2 linked regions of the Homo sapiens genome follow. The protein of the gene in region 1 purifies or fractionates together with the protein of each later gene. This does not show direct contact. Each region holds a gene or a part of one and is shown on either strand. Other genes may lie near its edges.

Region 1 (6,926 bases):
AGTTTGAGACCATCCTGGTCAACATGGTGAAACCCCATCTCTACTAAAAATACAAAAAAATAGCTGGGTGTGGTGGTGCATGCCTGTAATCCCAGCTACTGGGGAGGCTGAGGCAGAAGAATCGCTTGAACCCAGGAGGCGGAGATGGCAGTGAGCCGAGATCGTGCCATTGCACTGCAGCCTGGGCAACAAGAGCGAAACTCCATCTCAAAAAAAAAAAAGAAAAGAAAAGAAAAGAAAAAAAAGGCTATATAAAGGTTTCTTCATCATCTGTAATCATTTTCTTAGTTCTTATCCTCTTTTCACTGCTTTAGTGGTTTTTAAAAACATTTTTCTTTTAAACAAATACAAATACTACTTTTTGGAAATGAACAGGCTGTAAAAAAGCCAAACATTCCCCCCCTCAAGATGAAATTCAAATGTGTCCCTGCCTATATCCCCTGTCTTGTCCATTAACTCACTTCTCAGTCCAGCGTCTATGTCTTTGCTCAGGTTCTTCTCCCTGCCTGCAGCACCTATCCTCTCCTTTCTGGTTAATTTTGTGCTTTCCTTTAAAGATCCAACTAGATCACTTCCCTCATAAAGCCCTTCCCGACTAGTCTACAAGTATCTTTCTTCTCCCAAGAACACCTGTGGCACTGATTCAGCAGTCCATTAAGAACACAGCCTCATAGTGTAATTTCTTTTAATGTATAGGATTGTTTCCAACTCATCAGGTCTGGTGCAATTCTGTCACGATTTAACATGGAACATCCGGGCTGCCCTTCCTGAATAGTCCAGGGCAAGAGCAGTAGTGAGTGATTCTTCTCTTTTCTCGGGTTCACTTTGACCTGAAGCAAGTTGCTATCTTCGGAGAGTATGTATGGACCCCAACAGAATGGGGCCCAGGGGTCTTCATCCCTTACAAATCCTGGACTGTATCAAAGGGAAGGCCTCGGTAATTCGTGCTCACCCAGCCCATTCGGATCCTGGTCCTCCCTCTCTTGGGGTTCAGGGGGTTCCTAGAGTTTTCTTGTTCCCACCCAGGCATGGGGGGCTAGTGTCCAGCTGAGAGTTCTCTCTCCACTGGGCGGGGGTCCGTGCCTGGATGGCCAGCGCATGGACCGGACCTCCCAGCTCCTCGGCCAGCGCTGCGTGGACCAGCCGGTGTCGTTGTAGGGGGCTCAGTCCCTCGAAACGAGAGCTCACCACAGCCACGCGGAAGTGAGTCTCACTGCCAGGCGGGACCGCGTGGCCACCGCTCTCGTTGCGAAGCTCTAGCACCTCGGGGCTCAGGGCCTCCTCCAACTTCGTGCGAATGGCGGCCTCCACCGGACCGATGGCCCCGGATCCCGCGCTGCCCTGGCACAAACAAACGCGGCCAGCCATGGAGACCAGACCCAGGACCAGCCGCCCACTCAGCATGGGCTACGCCAGAGACTCAGACGCCAGGAGTGAGGGTCGGGGCGATCCGCCTGGTGAGAGCACAATGTCAACACCCGCCCCGCGATCCCCGCATCCGCCCTAACCCCACGCCCGGACGTCCACACCAGCTCCTATAGGGAGCCCGCCTTGATGCCACACGGGGAGACCCGAGACACCGCCCCTTTTCTCTACGTGACGTGGTGAATTCGACCTCCAGCTGTGGAAGTGAAGGGACAAGCGAAGATTAGAAAGGCCCGCACGCGAGGCGCGTTCGTTCCTTAGGGGATTTGCAAAGAATGGGCAAAAGTAGGGCATGTGCAACTGCGTACTTGTGGTTGGGCCGAAGCCCCTGTGTTCCCTGTGAAGCCCCGGAGACGCCCCTTCTACCTGCCGCTCAGCCTCGGCCACTGCGATTCCCGCTCAGGGCCAGGACTCTGGACGCTCCGGAGCAAAATGCAGTCCTGGCGCCCTTCCTGAGGCACGCTGGGAAATGGAGTCCTCGCTGCGCGTTGGTAGCACGGGCAGGCACCACGTGGTGCCCTGAGGGCTCATGGGAACTGTAGTCTCGGATTCTCCCCACTGGTAAGGTGGTCAGAAAGTCTGAACCCAGCAATGCAAAGAAAAAGGGAATTCACGCGCAGTTGGGATTGGGATTATTAGATCTATTTTACTGCCAATAGATCTTGTAGATCATCCAGCCCAACTCCTTTATTTTATATGCAAGAAAATGGAAGTCTGATTGAATACATAATTACTGTGCCCCAGACTAGTGCTGGGGACTGGGGAGTCAAGTCAGGCCCTGTTTTCAAGGAGACAACAGAGCACTGAAGACTAACAAGTGAGCGGACAATTGCAATACTGGGTACTAGGTGCTACGATGAGATAAACACAGGATGCTAAGGAGGCAAGTTACCCAGACTTGGCCGGGGTTGGAGAGGTGGAATGGGAGGCGGGCAGAGAATATTTCCGAGATTTAGGGAAACAGTTCAGCAGAAACAACATGAGAATCCATTTCTCAGTCCCTCATAGTGAGGTTTTGGCTTTGGTAGCTGCATGTGTAAAGGACAGGAGGAGAGAGAATTTTGAGGGAGTCTTTCCTTCTGGTGTAGTTAGGGTGTGGTTATGTGTGGTTGGAGCCTAGGGGGCAGCTGATGGTGATGAGTAGGGTACCAGGAGGAGAGGAACGGGCCAGACCACCCCAGGCCTTGTAGCCCTTGTTAGGCAATTTTGTCTTTATCCTAGAAGTAGTGGGAAGCTACTGAGGTTTTAAGCAGGGATGTAACAGGATGTAATTTTTCCAGGATGATTCTTAACTTGTAAAATTATTTAAATTTTATTTTGTATCCTTAATATATTTACATATTTCTAAATGTTTTTCCCCAACTTCTCATTTTGAAAAATGTCAAAGCCACAGAAAAGTTGAATAGTTCAAAGCAACACCCTCTACCTTTCACTTGACCCACCATTTTTTGCATTTATATTTATTTTATACTTGTACATATATACTCATATATTTAAGTACTTTACATATACTTTAAAATATATTTATATGCTTTTTTGGATGAACCATTTGAAAGTAAGTTGCAGATAGCATGACATTTCACCCCTAACTACTCCAATATGTATCTCCTAAGAACAAAGATATTCTCATACATAACCACAATAACCTTATCACACTCAAGAAATTTAAACTATGACATACACTGTTTTCCCTAGCCTTTAAAAAAAATTAAAACTTCCAGAAAATTTGCAAGATTAATACAATGAGCAACCCATTTATCCACTCTTCACCTAGGTTCACTGATAAGATTTTGCCAGACTTGGCTTTGTATCTCTTTTAATGTATGTGTGTATAATAATAATGAAATAATAATAATTATTTCTGCTGAATCACTTGAGTTAGGTGCAGAAATCTTATTTATTTATTTTTTTTTGAGATGGAGTTTTGCTCTTCTTGCCCAGGCTGGAGTGCAATGGCGTGATCTTGGCTCACTGCAACCTCTGCCTCCTGGGTTCAAGCAAGTCTCCTGCCTCAGCCTCCTGATTAGCTGGGATTACAGGCATGTGCCAACATGCCCGGCTAATTTTGTATTTTTAGTAGAGACGGGGTTTCTCCATGTTGATCAGGCTGGTCTGGAACTCCCAACCTCAGGTGATCCACCCTCCTCGGCCACCCAGGATTACAGGGATTACAGGCGTGAGCCACTGCGCCTGGCCCAAAATTCTTTTTTTTTTTTTTTTTAAACAGAGTCTCACTCTGTTGCCCAGACTGGAGTGCAGTGGCGCCATCTTGGCCCACTGCAACCTCCACCTTCTGGGTTCAAGTGATTCTCCTGCCTCAGCCTCCTGAGTAGCTGGGACTACAGGCTGGTGCCACCATACCTGGCTAAATTTTTTTGCATTTCTAGTAGAGATGGGGTTTCACCATGTTGGCCAGGCTGGTCTGGAACTCCTGACCTCAAGTGATCCTCCTGCTCTGGAACTCCTGACCTCAAGTGATCTGCCTGCCTCAGCCTCCCAAAGTGATGGGATTACAGGCGTGAGCCACTGCACCCAGCCACAAAATTCTTTTTTTTTTTTTTGAGATGGAGTTTCGCTCTTGTTGCCTAGGCTGGAGTGCAATGGTGCGATCTTGGCTCACAGCAACCTCCGCCTCCTGGGTTCAAGCGATTTGCTTGCCTCAGCCTCCCATGTAGCTGGGATTACAGGCGTGCGCCACCACTCTGGCTAATTTTGTGTTTTTAGTGGAGACGGGGTTTCTCCATGTTGGTCAGGCTGGTCTTGACTCAGGTCATCAGTCCGCCTCGGCCTCCCAAAATGCTGGGATTATAGGCGTGAGCCACTGCGCCTGGCCCCACAAAATTCTTTACACTTAATTGCTATGTACTTTCAATGTGTATCTCCTAAGAACAAGGACATTTTCATACATATCCACAATACCATTACCACATCCAAGACATTTAACATTCATACAATACTATAATCACATACAGTTGATATTCAGATTTCCCCAACTGTCTCATTGGTGTCTACTATAGTTTGAATATGTCTCCTCCAGAATTCATGTTGAAAATTAATCCATGGTGTTGGTATTAAGTGGTGGGGCCTTTAGGAGGTAATAAGGCTATGAGGGCTCCACCCTCAAGAATGGACTAACGCCTTTTGAAAGAGCTTGAGGGGGTAAGTTGGCCCCTTCTGTCCCTTCTGCCATGTAAGGTCACCTCGATGGCGTATCTATGAGGAACTGGCCTTCACTAGATACCAAACCTGCCAGTGCCGTAATCTTGGACTTCCCAGCCTCCAGAACTGTGAGAAAATACATTTCTGTTTATAAATTACCCAGTCAGTGGTATTTTGTAATAGCAGCACAGTCTAAGTAAACATTATAAATGTTTAATTTTCAGAAACCAATCAAGGATCATGCATTGCATTTAGCTGACTTTAAGTTTGTATTCTGCAAAGATCACTGGCTTCAGGGTGGAGAATGGATTGTAGAGGAGGCAAGAGTGGAAACAGGGAGACAAGTTGGGAGGTTACTGTAGCAGTCTAGGTGAGAGATGATGATGATTTGGACCAAGGTGGTGGTGGTGGTGGTGGAAATGGAGAGAAATTGTGGCTACAGGATGTATATTAGGAAAGTAAAACCTACAGGGTGTGGTAATGGCTTGGTTGTGGGAGGGAAAGTGTCAAGGATAATTACAAGGTTTGTGCATCTAAAGTTAAAAAAAACAGTTCAAATAATTCCTGTATATCCTTTATCCTGATACCTAGATTACCCAAATATTAACAATTCACTGTTTGTTTTATTTGTATGTACCTATCTACAAATATATAATTATTTTCTGGACTGTTTGAGACTAAGTTTCAGAGATAAAGCCTATTAAACTCTACCTGTGATGGTTAACTTTTTTTTTTTTTTTGAGATGGAGTCTCACTCTGTCGCCCAGGCTGGAGTGCAGTGATGCAATCTTGGCTTACTGCAACCTCTGTCTCCTGGGTTCAAGTGATTCTTGTGCCTCCGCCTCCTGAGTAGCTGGGATTACAGGCGTGGACAATGGCGCCTGGCTAATTTTTGTATTTTTAGTGGAGAGGGGGGTTTCACCATGTTGGCCAGGCTGGTCTCAAACTCCTGACCTCAGGTGATCCACCCACCTCAGCCTCCCAAAGTGCTGGGATTAGAGGCGTGAGCCACCACGCACGGCCTGTGATGGTTAATGTCCCAACTTCTAGAGGATTGGTGCTCAGATATTTGGCCAAATATGGGTGCTTCTGTGAGAGTATTTTGAATGAGATTAACATTTGAATTGGAGACTGAGTAAATTGCCCTCCCTAATATAGGTGGGTCCCATCCAACCAGTTGAAAGCTTGACTAGAACAAAAGACTGACCCACTCCGGAGTAAGAGAGACTTCCTTCTGCCTGACTGCTTTGAGACCCGGACATTGGCTTTTCTCAGCCTTCAGACTCAGAAGTAAACACTGGCTCCATCTGGGTCTTAGACTCGGCCTTTGGACTGGAACTACACCATTGGTTCTCAGGCCTTTGAACTTGGACTGGAACTATATCATCAGTTCTCCTGGGTCTCCAGCTTGCCAACTTACCCTGAAGATCTTGGGGATCTTGGGATTTATTAGCTTCCATAATCAAAAAGCCAATTTTTTATAATAAAACTATCTATCAAAATATCTACCATTCGTTCTGTTTCCCTGGAGAATCCTGACTGATGTATATTTACTTAAAAAAAAAAATTTTCTCACATAGCCGGAATATAACTGTCAGACTCTAGAAATGAACACAGATACGGTACTATTATCTAATCTACAGACCTTATTCAAAATTTGCCAATTGTTCCACTACTATCATATATATAAAATGAAAAGAAATATCTTCTGGTCCAGGATCCAATCTAGGATGACGTGTTGCATTCAGTTGTTATATTTCTTTGTTCTCCATTAACTTGAAATAGTTTCCTAGATTTTCTTTGTCTTTCATGACTTTGGTAATTTTGAAGTTACAGACATTTATTTTGTAGAATGTCCCTCAATCTGGGTTTGTCTGATGTTTCTTTATGATTAAAATTTAGCACATGCATTTTTGGCTGGAATACTGCAGAAGTAATGTTGAATTCTTCTCTGTGAACCTTACCAGGGCACGTGATCTTTTTGTTATTACTAGTGATAGTTCTGATCACTTGATTAAGATGGTATCTGTCAGGCTTTTCCACTATAAAATTCCTTTTCTGTCTGTAATTGTGGAAGATACTCTAAGTGTATCTACTTTCCTAATTCTCATTAAGTTTTTTCCCACTAATTTTAGCATGTGAGAAGTATATTTGAGACATCTCTTAGTTAGGGGTTGTTGAAGATGAAATGAGATCATGGGGGTGGGGCTGGGGTGTGGTATGTGATCACCTGGGGAGAGAGTGTACAGTGAGAAAAGAATCAGAATGTCTATTAGAAAGGCCACTCTGGTGAGGAGTGGGAAGAGTAGAAGCAGGGAGAGGAGTAGAAAAGTCTTTGTTGG
Region 2 (7,251 bases), on another chromosome or scaffold:
AGAAACATCTAAAAGGATATTCACAAAAATGTTAGCAGGGTTATCTCTGTAATTTTGGATAAAACTGCTTTATTTTTGTGAACTTCTCTATACTGTTTAGGTGTTTTAGAACAAACAGGCACCAATTTTATAAAAACAATAGGTTCTTTCCTAAGACAGCCTTGTGGCTGGGTGCAGTGGCTCACACCTGTAATCCCAACACTTTGGGAGATCTAGGCGGAGGACAGCTTGAAATCTAGGAGTTTGAGACCAGTCTGGTCAACGTAGCGAGAAGCCATCACTACAAAAAATAAAAAATTCTAAAAAACAAAGATGGCCTTGGAAATGAAGGAAGGTACAAAAGGGGATGGAGAGGAGAGAGGAAGTGAAGGAGGAACAGACATAATGAAGCATATGAAGTGGCCAGAAATAGGTGGATTGGTGCCTACCTGGGGGGTGAATGAGAAGACTCTGGATCAGGTTTTTCTGCCCCCTGTGTCTCAGAATGCTGCTGAGAAAATGAGTTGGGAGGCTGCTGCTTCTGCTCATCTGAAGACCTTAGCCCCACAGCTGAAGCATGGAAGGCACGCGGCACCAGGGCTTGTCGGCAACGGGCCACTGAAACAGAAACTGGTCAGTCAGGGACATTCAACAGAGAAGACCCTTTCAGACCCAGAGTGGTAACACAGATAAGGAGGAGGAAAAGCAGGCCAGAGACTCCTGTAGAACCACTTATCCAAGTGTTGGGTCCCACACAAAAATATTGGGTAAACTGGGAACTTTGGGACACGAAGTGGTAGCAAAAGTGGTAAGCCAGGAAAAATGATCTACCTAGCATCTTGACCTGTTTCTACCACTTGTTACCTGGGTAACTGGCAAACAATTTCACCCCAATGTGCAGATTTTTAAATCTGCAAATTTAGAGTAATAATCTCTACTTGCTCAATGAGAGCACTGTGTGGCCCAAACAAAAAGTAAAAGTGGCTTGCAAATGTTACAGATTTATATATATTATGGCAAGAGCTCTGGAATAGTAATTTAATGTCTCAGCCCTACTCCCCCAGTGTTTATATGGTATCTTTGGACAAGTCACTAATCTCTATCTGCTTTCTCATCTGCAATATCTGCAACATCTCCATTTACTTTAAGAAAGATGAGAAGTATGTTTCCTAAGCATAAACTCATAGTATTTTTTATTTCCCAACATTTTTTATTCTAAAAATTTTCTTTTTTTTTTTTTTTTTTGTCAGAGTCTCACTCTGTCGGCCAAGCTGGAGTGCAGTGAGATTATCTCGGCTCACTGCAACCTCTGCCTCCCAGGCTCAAGTGATTCTCGTGCCTCAGCCTCCCGAGTAGCTGGGATCACAGGCACCCGCCACCACTCTCAGGCTCACTTTTGTATTTTTAGTAGAGACGGAGTTTCGCCATGTTGGCCAGGCTGGTCTCAAACTCCTGACCTCAAGTGATCGCCCGTCTTGGCCTCCCAAAGTGCTAGGATTACAGGCGTGAGCCATCATGCCCAGCCTATTATAAAAATTTTCAAACACGCAAATTGAAAGAATTATGGAATGAACACCTGTATATCTGCCACTAGGTTCAACACATCTGTCATGTTCTTCATTCATCCATCTTGATTTTCAGTGCATTTGTTGCAGATATCAGTATTATTCACCTCTAAACATTTTAGCATCAAAGACTTCTACGTTCACTGTTTTGTTATTCAGATGCCATTTACACACAATGAAATGCATAAATCTTAAGTGTACCATTCTATGAGTTTTGACAAATGTATACACTTGCACAACCTAAACCCAATCTAAACAGAGAACATTACTGTCACCCCAGAAAGTTCCCTTATGCCTTTTCAGTCATTCCCCATTCATACTGTTCTGAATTTTTCACTCTAGGTTAGTTTTTGCTTGTCTTAGTTTTGCCTGTCCTAAGATTTCATCTATATGTACATGTTTCAGTAAAGCTTCTTTCACTTAGGACTATATATGTGTGTGTATATATATATATTTATTTATTTTAAGTTTAAATAGAGACAGAGTCTTGCTATGTTGCCCAAGATGGTCTTGAACTCCTCGGCTCAAGCAACCCTCCCACCTCAGCTTCCCAAAGTGCTGGGATTACAGGTGTGAGCCACCACACCTGGACCACTTAGTATATTTTTGAGATTGATCCATATTTTTATGCCTATCAGTATATCTGGCAAAGATTCTCTCCTTGATCAGGCTCTAACCAGGCTCCTCTGAGCCCTCTTCTTATCTAGGCCTCAACCTTGGCCTATAAAGACTTGAACACACACTAACATAAGCATCACTCAGGGCCACATCCCTTAAGATAACCCTACCCCCCTTTAAAGTGCCTGCCTGAGAAAACTCAAGGCTGTCAAAAAAAATTTTACTGTTTGTTCAGGCTAACACTTAAGAAGGATAGGGCTTGTCTCCCTGTGGGAAAACAGAATCCTAACTTTGTTAACTGCCAGCTAGCAGACCAATCTTATTTATAATTATTCACTATCCTGACTCTACTGAGTCCCCACCTGCCTTCCTCCCTCCTCCCTCATTTTTTCTTTGAAACACCCAGTGACTTCTGCATGCTCTAAACTCAAGGTTGGGCTCCGTTCATGCTAGACTCTTTTCCCTATTGCAATAGTTATTACTGATTAAAAATGGTCCTTATCACTTTAGTGTCCAGCTTTCTCTTTGACTGATTTTTAGTTTTTATTGCAGAATAGTATTCCATAAAAAAAATACTATTCTGTTGCTAGACAACTGGACTGTTTCTGTGTTTGGCTACTATGAATAAAATTGCTATGAATATACTTGTACTAACTTTTTTGTAGACACATACCTTCATTTCTCTTGGTGGATTTGCGGGGTCATAGACATTACTTTTACTACACATCTTTAGTTTGGAATTTTGTATAAATACAACAAAAGGGGGCTAGGCGGTGGCTCATACCTGTAATCCCAACACTTTGGGAGGCTGAGGCAGGCAGATAACTTGAGGTCAGGAGTTTTGGACTAGCCTGGCCAACATGGTGAAACCCCGTCTACTAAAAATAAAAAATTAGCTGGGCATGGTGGCACAACCCCAGCTACTAGGAAGGCTGAGGCAGGAGAATCACTTGAACCCAGGAGGTAGAGGCTGCAGTGAGCCGAGATTGTACCACTGCACTCCAGCCTGGGTGACAGAGTGAGACTCTGTCTCAACAACAAAATTAAGCCAAGTAGGGTGGCACGCACTTGTAGTCCCAGCTCCTTGGGAGGCTGAGGAGCCAGACCCTGTCTCAGAAAAAAAAAAAAAAGAAAAAAAAGAAACAGAATAGTATGTGCCAAAATATCAATATTTTAATACATGTACTGAAAGATACGGCACAAATATCCGCAAAACTTTGAAAAGGAAGGAGCAGATGCAAAGTATGACTGTAGTACCACTGAGGGTCATGAGAAGATTTTAGGTGAAATACAGGTGAACGTTTCATCAGTTATGTATGTATGCTAAAGTGTTAATGCATACGTTCTAATTAAGGAAGGCGATATTAGTTTTCCATTTATGACAATGATATAAAGTTTCCTCTTTAAGAACTCCTATTTAAAAATAAAAATACTGAGTACATAGTGGCAAAGGTGGTAAGAGAGTATCACAGAATTCGTGAAGTGGTGAGGAAACGGCTGGCTTTCGGGAAACAATGGACTAGGCTCTCTGTGGCCGTGTCCACCTGTCCTTCCAGTGGACTTGGCAATGGACTTGAGAATGGGTCTGCGACTGCCAGTTCTGTAACCAACAGGCTCAGGCTGCGTGACTTTCGTACCCCGAGCCCTCTCTGAGGCTCTGCCAACTCCATGAAATGGGGGTGACAGGCCCTGCCCCGCTGCATCTGCCCCTCACAGACAGCGGAGCAGGGCCGAAGCTAGCCAGGCGGCTCGCCCGAGCCCGCGCCGATGCCCTTCACCTCACCTTGCTCGTGGGCCGCCCCAACGGCCTCTTCCCCCCACCGTCGAACCCAGCTGAAGCCGGCCTCGCGCCCCCTCCGCGCTCCCCGCCTCTCCCCGGCTTGGCAGCCCCCTCACCGGGCAGGCATCGCAGCTGCAGGAGCCTCCAGCCCGCCCGGCCAAGCGCACCAGATACCGCCGCCGCCGCCATTTTGGAAGCGGGCACGTCGCCCACGGCGACGCGACCGGTAGCTACGGGACCACGGCCCTAAGGAGGGCGGAAGTCGTCGCTCCGTGGAGCCTCCTCCTCTCGCGAGAGGCGCAAGGCGTGGAGTCGACGGCTGGAGAGAAGCCGGGAGCGAGCCCAGGCGGCAGGTGAGAGTGGTGGGGGCCAGCTGAGCGCCAGAGCTCCCTCAACTGTCCCCTCCCGGCCCACCCTCGTTCCCACATCCTCTCATTTTCTCTTCCCACCCCGTTCCTCGATGGGAACGCAGCCACGGCCGCCCCGCTGAAAGCCCCGGCTGGTTTATTCCTGAGAAGTCGGTGTGAGGGGCCAGGGCCGGCCCTAACCTCCCTGGGGTCCTGACTGGGAATTTCTGCCGTTCCCCGGCTGCCTCGTCCCTTGCGCAGCCGGCCCTACTCTGAGGCCCCGGGGACACCACGCTGAGGAGAAACGGCTCCGAGCTTGGGATCGGGGAGACCTGGTTCTGAGACCCGGTCCTACCAGTAGCCAATCGTTGTGACCTTGGGCCTCAGTCCCCGTGACGTTTTGGTCCCTGGGGGTTCCTGGCAGCAAAGCACGAAAGCCTTGGAGTCGGGGGGTACCTGAGCTCACGATTGTAATTTCGAACCTGCAACTTGTCCGAACCCCCAGCGTGTTGAGTTGATATAATTAAGTATCCAGATCGGAAGGATGCTTGTTACTAGAACAGACAGCTAGGCCTTTGTCCAGAAGGATTGATTGAGTGGGTCTGGGTGTGGTCCAGGAATCTCATTTTAACCACTCCCTCGGGTGATTTGTAGGATCTGCAAGTTCGGGAAAGGCTGGTGCCCTTCATTCTGACATTACTGAGTGCCAAGCTCTGGATGGCTCAAGGAGGTCACGGTCTAGCCACTAACAGAGCACTTCACGGGGGTGTCATCAGAGAAGGCTTAGTAGGAAGAAGTAAACGGTTTTTGGGCTAAGAGTAACTGACGACAAGAGCATGTGATTCTGTCGATTTTGTGTTTGCAGTCAGACCCCATCATTGTGTCTGTTAAAGTTGTGCTTTGCACACCCCTTGTCAAATCTAGTCTTTTCAGAATATCCGGCTCCCCCCTGCACGGGTGCGGGGAAGACCTCCTAAGCCAAAACTTACCCCAAAGGTTAAAATTTTAGATCCATATTTCTGGTTTTAGGTAAAACACTCCTCTCCATAAGGATTTGTTTCTGAGTTCTATCCATCCATCTTTGAATGAGCCTTTCCTGTGGAAACTAACATTTGGGTATCCTTTCTGAAACCCTAATTCCTGACACACGCCAAATGCCTGGAGACGTTCCTGTTTCATTGTTGATTCTCACTTTTTAAAAAAAATTCTGGGCCAGGCTCATGCCTGTAATCCCAGCACTTTGGGAGGCTGCGGCGTGTGGATCACTTGAGCTCAGGAGTTCGAGACCAGCCTGGGCAACATGGCGAAACCGCATCTCTACAAAGAATACAAAAATTAGCTGGGTGTGGTGGTGGGTGCCTGTAATCCCAGCTATTTGGGAGGCTGAGGCGGGAGAATCGCTTGAACCCCGGAGTCGGAGGTTGCAGTGAGCCAAGATTGTGCCATTGCACTCCAGCCTGGGCAACAGAGCAAGACTCTGCCAAAAAAAAAAAAAAAAAAAAAAAAAAAAAAACCTCTAAGGTCTTAGTCTAAGTGTCTAGACAGAGCGTTCTCTTGAGGGCAGGGAACAAGTGTCTTCTTGTCTGTCTCCCGTGTAGGGACAGGCACATAGTAGGTTTCTTAGGTCTCATTTGCAGGTTGTAATTGTGCCTTCCTACCATTCTGCTAAAGCTGGCAGGGAAACTGAGGCCCAGAGAGGGGCAATGGCTGACTTGGATTGCACAGCAGGCTGGTTAGGCCCACTTGGTACTGGTCACCCAGAGGCCAGGCAGTGACATGTATGTGCACAAGAGCTTCAGTTAGTTAATTTTATGTTTTTAATTTAATTTTTTTTTATTTTGAGATGGAGTCTCACTCTGTCTCCCTGGCTGGAGTGCAGTGGCAAGATCTTGGTCCACTACAACGTCCGCCTCCTGAGTTCAAGCAATTCTGCCTACCTCAGTCTACCAAGTAGCTGGGATTACAGGTGCACGCCACCATGCCCAGCTAATCTTTGTATTTTTAGTAGAGACGGGTTTTCTCCATGTTGGCCAGGCTGGTCTTGAACTCCTGACCTCAGGTGATCCACTTGCTTCAGCCTCCCAAAGTGTGGGATTACAGGTGTGAGTCACTGCACCCAGCCCAGTTAGTTAATTTTAATTAGGATTTTCCTTTCTGATAACTGTCAGTATTCTTGGAACTCTTTTATGCACCCGAGTTAAAGAATTTTTTGAACTGAAGCCCAAACTTCAGTGTTATTTTTTGCTTTTGTCCCCTTTCACCAGAAGAGAGACCAAATGCCTCAAGATTTGATGCTTACTGGGCACCTAAAAAACAGTCTGTTCTCAGACATCCGCTTTTACTGCCTGCCAGTAACATTTTAGAAGGGCCATGCACATGTGTGTGCCTCAGTCAGAGTTGGAGAGGTACCCAACAAGCTCAGTGACGTGACAATGATGCTACCTCTTATTATGAAACTGGGTCCTGACTCACAGCTTCTAAGCATGTTGTCTTAGATACTGGACACTTTTTCCTTACGGGTTTTTTTGTTTTAAAAGACAAATTCACAACAGCAACATAAAATTCTGATGATGAAAAGTATCACACTTTGGCTTTAGATATTTAAAAGAATATTATCTCCTATTTTATTTGAAAAATGCTGACTGAAAGTAGTGGCTATGCCTGTTTTTTGAGGGTTGATGTTTAATGAATGTAGTTCATAAGCTCCTCTTGCCATAAGATTAGTTTTGGGAGATACGGAACGCAAAGCATTTTACATTCTTCTAATTTACTGACACAGTCCCACTGGAGTACTGTCCAAAGATCATAAAGCGCAGCTCTTACACTAATTCTAACAATGAAAAAGCAGGTTCCCATCACTCCCTGGAGTGTCCTCCTATCAGGCATGGCTAAGGAGAAGCAGGGTTTTATAGGACTGCTTGAAGCAAAGGCAGGTAAACTAGCCACAGAGAAGTGGAAGCCC

The links. The genes of interacting proteins can lie anywhere in the genome.
Region 2: the proteins of BOLA1 (region 1) and CIAPIN1 purify together in Homo sapiens (affinity purification with mass spectrometry; 3 studies listed by BioGRID and IntAct, with this or other methods). This does not show direct contact.

What each region holds. Positions count from the first base shown.
Region 1 is NC_000001.11:149,894,538-149,901,463, reverse strand, and holds BOLA1 (bolA-like protein 1), read right to left. Parts: upstream 1,897-6,926; 5' UTR 1,792-1,896; exon of another isoform or gene 1,734-1,791; intron 1,622-1,733; exon of another isoform or gene 1,455-1,621; 5' UTR 1,405-1,454; coding exon 991-1,404; 3' UTR 669-990; downstream 1-668. UniProt on the Homo sapiens protein: Acts as a mitochondrial iron-sulfur (Fe-S) cluster assembly factor that facilitates (Fe-S) cluster insertion into a subset of mitochondrial proteins. Probably acts together with the monothiol glutaredoxin GLRX5. May protect cells against oxidative stress.
Region 2 is NC_000016.10:57,444,386-57,451,636, reverse strand, and holds the start of CIAPIN1 (anamorsin), read left to right. Parts: upstream 1-4,251; 5' UTR 4,252-4,295; intron 4,296-7,251. Other genes in the region: COQ9 (ubiquinone biosynthesis protein COQ9, mitochondrial precursor), read right to left, coding at 429-597, 4,059-4,131. UniProt on the Homo sapiens protein: Component of the cytosolic iron-sulfur (Fe-S) protein assembly (CIA) machinery required for the maturation of extramitochondrial Fe-S proteins.